2 separate regions of the Homo sapiens genome follow, and region 2 is linked to region 1. A link means that fine-mapping ties the variant in region 1 to the expression of a gene that starts in the linked region. Tissue or cell type: lung. Region 1 holds a variant in brackets; the other region holds the start of a gene. All regions are shown on one strand. Distances are between the middles of the regions.

Region 1 (2,686 bases):
TTGCCTGGGCTACAGGGTGCCTAAACAATGGATCAAACTGTCCTGGGTGTGGCTGTGAGTGTGTTTCTGGGTGAGCTTAACCTTTCTCTGGAAGACTAAGTGAAGCTGACCTCCCTCCTAGATGTGGGGGGCCCCACCCAGCCAGTTGAAAGCCTGAGGCAAACAGGACTGCTGACCCTCCGTGAGTCAGAGAGGACTCCTCCTGCCTGAGTGCTGGGGCTGGGACATCAGTTTATTCCCGCCTTGGAGCATGCGCTAAAACGTCAGCTCTTCATTGGCCTCAAGTCTGCTGGCCGTCACACTGGACCTGCACCACCCACTCTCCTGGGTTCCCAGCTTGCCAACTACAGGTCTTGGGATCTGTGGGCCTCTGGGCCCATGTGGGCCAATTCCTTACGATAAATCCCACATATCTCCACATAGACGTAGACATATCGCCTCCTATTGGTTCTGTTGCTCTGCAGAACCCTGACTAATAGATGACCTCTTCCGTGCATCTCAGGGTTCCCGCTCAACTGGGGGCCTGGCTGGTGGTGGTTTATTTGCACTATGAGGGGGCGGCCTTGCCGGTGATGTTCCTTGTGATTTAGGCCAGGTGGGGCATTGTTTTCATAACTGCAGGCAACACTGGGCTGTGAGTTTGTCCTCCATGAGATTCTATTCCATCCAGGGCAGCCATGGCCTGGTGGATTGTTTAGCCTTAGCCATCGCTGACAGAAATCAGGACTTGTACTTGTCAGGTGCTCCCTGAGAAACTACTGTGTGGGCTCAGCACTCCATTCAGCCTCCTCAGACTATAGAGTCCTCATGCCCTGCCATCTGTCACCAGATAATCCCACTGGAATGTGCAGAGCTGATGGAGGACATCTTTGGCCTCAGCTAACGTTTTCCACCGCCATTCTGCCCAGGGGGTTGTGAGGCCTCGTGTAGGGTGGGCAGCTTTCCAAGCCACCAAAATTCACAAAAATGCAAAATCCATACTGACCAGGTGTACATGGACTGCAATGCAAAGCCTCCTGGGAGTCACTCTCAGCTTCTGTACTAACTGTGCAGAATCCTTTAGTAGGGAAGCCACTTTTCCATACCGTCCTGGGGCAGCCAAGTGCTTCACTTCAGCCCCTGTCAGGTGGAGCTTGCTGTGCTCTGTTCGATACATTGTCTGTAGCTTTTTTCTTTTCTTTTCTTTCCTTTTGACGGAGTCTCGCTCTGTCGCCCAGGCTGGAGTGCAGTGGCGTGATCTCGGCTCACTGCAAGCTCCGCCTCCCGGGTTCACGCCATTCTCCTGCCTCAGCCTCCCCGGTAGCTGGGACTATAGGCGCC[T/C]GCCACCACGCCCGGCTAATTTCTTTTTGTATTTTTAGTAGAGACGGGGTTTCATCGTGTTAGCCAGGATGGTCTCGATCTCCTGACCTCATGATCCGCCCGCCTTGGCCTCCCAAAGTGCTGGGATTACAGGCGTGAGCCAGCACGCCCGGCCATCGGTAGCTTTTTCATTTGGTTCCCTGGCTAGGTCCTTACGGACAGGCAGGGGCTCCGGGTGAGACAGAGGGTGTCTCCTCCTCCAAATGAGAAATGGCCTCTCCTTCTTGACCCTCCCCTGTTGTCTCTTCTGTTTTTTTGACTTTGCTGTTGGTGACTGGCAAAGGAGAAGGTCAAGTTCCTCACTCTCTCATGGTGGTATTGTGTCGCGTCATCCTCTAGAGGGCGCCAGTCCTCTTCTCCGGGGTCTTCTACGCCTTCTGGTCTCCTCTGATGAAAGAAGATTATATGACCACAAGGTGGCGTAGCACAATAAGGGTTATTATTATTCTATGCCCCGATCATAGACTAGAGTAGACAGCCAGGCTTAATGTGGCTACTATGAATGAGAGACCTACCCTCTGGGCCGTGTCCTGGCGAGAAGCGCGCAAGCCCAACATGGGTCCCCTGGTTTGGATTCAAGAGGACAGCCACCTCCTTTGGAGTCCTGGTTGGGACAGCAATATAAACGTCTTTAGTCACGTGAAGTAACAGTTTTGCCCCACCTCAACAAATTTGGGGTCTTGATATTGCTCCGGAAAGGAACAGAAATGATGTCATCTGTAATAGCAAATTCAAATGCGACAAGAACAGAGGCATGCTAGCTGTTTACAAAAGCGCCTCCCCCAGCTGTGCTTAGGGGATCCACGTCAGCCCGACATCGCTGCTTTATAGCCATGTTCACGTGTCATATGCGTCTCAGGGTACCCAAAATCACAGGGCCAACTCACGGGGCTCCTACCACTCTAGCCAGTCATGGGGTCAGGATAGCCTACCCTCAGTCCAGAGATGTGTACTCCCCCAACCTTTTGTGTTCAGACCCACAGGCCTTATAGCGCCCTGTGCGTGCCCCAGCATTTCCCTGCCTAGTGGGGCTCCAGGCGGGCAGGGTGACCTCCTTCCCCAGGCAGTTCCACACCTGATCCCAAAAGTCAGTTCTAATGAAGTGGATTCATTCAAATACTGGTGTTACTGCTTGGCCAGGCTAGTGAGGCACAGAGAAAACCCACAAATGTAGAGTATGTGACACAGCACAAAGCAGTCCCATGCCAAACTGATGCAATGGCATTCCAAGTTTAGAGTTCCACCGCTTGAGACCATCCAGGATTCTTTTACCAATTATTTGTCCTACTGTCTCCTATCTATTTCATGATTACCAGAAATCCTTCCC
Region 2 (2,686 bases), 44 kb before region 1:
ATTTTTTGAGACAGAGTTTTGTCTCTCCCCCAGGTTGGAGTGCAGTGTCACAGTCTTGGCCCACTGCAACCTCCACCTCCCAGGTTCAAGCGATTCTCATGCCTCAGCCTCCCAAGCAGCTGAGACTACAGGCATGTGCCACCACATCTGGCTAAATTTTGTATTTTTAGTAGAGATAGGGTTTTGCCATGTTGGCCAGGCTGGTCTCTAACTCCTGGCCTCAAGTGATCCTCCCGCCTTGGCCTCCCAAAGTTCTGAGATTGCAAGTGTTAGCCACTGTGCCCAGCCCTCAGTTAACATTTTTATCATGAATGCCATTTGGTTTGACTTTGAAGTCAGACCTTGATTAATTCTTCCACCATCATTACCCCTTTGGTATAGGCTGTGAATTCCGGGGCTCTGTTAACCACATCACGTGACTTTAATGGGTCTCTGGTCTTGGCTCAGATTTGGGTCTAAGTTAACCTTCCATTTAAGGCCTCTCTGAAATAACTTTGGAATTGGGTTACTATTGCACCACCAGTGCCCCTCTGATTTGATCTTCAAGCAGGATATTTGTTAATGTTTTCTCCATCCATACACCCTGATAGAGGTCTTGAATCCTAGGACTTTCTTAACTATTGTAACCATCAGAGTTCCCGTTTTGTATCGAACATGAACCTTTGTTAACTCTGCAATCCTGTTCCGGGCTGACTTCCAATCCAGCCCTTTGTTAAGTCGTCTAAAACCAATGTCCCTTAGGTTTTACCTCGAACCTCTGACTCTATGAACTCTTTTAGTTTTGATACGGGCTGCAAAAGGCCATATAAGCCTACTTGAACTAGGGCAGGCAGAAGTCCAGGCTGTAAATGACAGGTGAAGGTGGGCCCTTCCGTGTTCAAAGGAGCCAATGGAGGACCGGTGGGCAGTGAGTGACAGATGGGGGCGGGTCCTGACGCCAAGCAGGAACAATAGGAAGGCGGCAGGGCGCCGAGGCCAGGTGGGGAGAAGTGGGCGGGTATGTGTGAGCCCCCTGAAAGGCTGCATGATGTCAAAGGTCTCTTCCCTTTCTCCAGACGTTTTAGGAATTCGCTTCTGCGGAGGAATCTCCCGGGGGGTGCTCTGTCCAGCCTTCCCACTTTCCCCGTTTCCCACCCTGCCATGTCGCCACGCCTTTGCTCAGGCCGTGCCTCTTCTGGTGGCCGGGAACGCCCACTCACCCGGACAAGTCGCGGCCCTTCCAAGCCTCACACTGCTTTCGTAGGATCAATTCCGAATACCCAAACTCGGAGATATCACGAGGACTCCCCCGGGCCCCCAAACGCACCTCTCCTCTGGCTGGAATGGGAGCCTCCAGAAGCAGTGCGAGACCACGGCCAGCGACAGAGGTCCTGGCGCTGGCGGAATGACGCCATTTTTGTTACTGGTAGAGCTCGGCTTCGTGGCTGTTTCGGAGCCACCGAAAGATAAGCTCCCTCGTCACCCTGACATCTCTCCGGGAAGACTGGAAGGGAAATGGCCTTTCGGGGGATGTTGAACGCATTTGGGCAGGCGGGGAGCCAAGCCCGGCTTGAGAGCAGAGCCGGGGTGAGGGGCCTGGCTGAGTGCTGCGGGTCTATGTGATCAGTGACGGATGGAGACAAGTGGAGGGCCTGAGGAGGGGATTGAGTGACGTGGAGAACAGTGATAGGGGAGCCTGTGGGACCAGGGGTAACAGTATGTGGGTTATGCAAATGGGAGTTTGTGGGGTGATGGGGGATCTGTGCGGTGTTTGATGATGTCTGTAAGGGTGAGTGATGGGGCTTCTATGGGATGGGTGAAGGGAGTCTGGGGTGAGTGATGGGTGGTCTGTAGGGTGAGGGATGCTGATCCGTGGGGTGAGTGGATAGGGGGATCTGGGGTGAGGGATGAGGGTCTATGAGGACAAGAATGGGAGTGTGTGTGGGGTCAGTGTTGACATTCTGTGGGGTCCATGATGGGTGGCTTTTTCAGATCAATCATATGTGCATGAATGAACAAAAATCTCTGCTCCTGTGGTGTCCACATTCCGATGGAGAAGTCCAACTTGGTGGTTTGATTTGTATTTCCCTCATGACCAATAAGTTTGAGCACATTTTCTTATATGGATTCATCACTTGGAGATCTTCTTTTGTGAGGGGCCTGTCTTTTGTTCATTTTTCTGTTGGACTCTCTGCCCTTTTCTTAATGATTTGTAGGAATTTTTTTTTTTTTTTTTTTTTTTAGACGAAGTCTCACTCTGTCGCCCAGGCTGGAGTGCAGTGGAGAAATCATGGTTCACTGCAACCTCCACCTCCTGGGTTCTAGCAATTATCCTACCTCAGCCTCCCGAGTAGCTGGAATTACAGGCGCCTGCCACCACGCCTGGCTGATTTTTTTGTATTTGTAGTAGAGACAGGGTTTCGCCATGTTGGCCAGGCTGGTCCCGAACTCTTGACCTCAGGTGATACACCCACCTCGGCCTCCCAAAGTGCTGGGATTACAGGTGTGAGCCACCGTGCCCGGCCAGGAATTGTTTTTATATATTCTGATACCACTCCTTTAGTAGTGGTATGTGTTTTGCAAATATCTCCTTCCAGCTTTTGGCTTCTCTTTTCATTTTATGGCTTTAAATATGAAGATTTTCAGTTAATTTTGAACTGTAAAGCACATTCTTCAGTTAAAAAGCAGACAATATCGGCTGGGCGTG

What was found. PIP is the estimated chance that this variant, and not a neighbour inherited with it, causes the effect.
Region 2: it holds the start of ZNF630, and the variant in region 1 is fine-mapped to the expression of ZNF630 in lung (TOPMed, PIP above 0.99).

The regions. Positions count from the first base shown.
Region 1 is chrX:48,025,894-48,028,579 of GRCh38, reverse strand. No RefSeq gene overlaps it. Among named protein-coding and RNA genes, the nearest start is that of SPACA5, 20 kb to the right of the region's middle. The variant T/C (reference allele first, on the strand shown) is at 1,321.
Region 2 is chrX:48,070,147-48,072,832 of GRCh38, reverse strand. It overlaps ZNF630 (zinc finger protein 630), which reads left to right and starts at 1,193. Exons shown (of 5, transcript NM_001282201.2): 1 at 1,193-1,566. RefSeq lists a silencer at 855-1,051 and an enhancer at 963-1,222.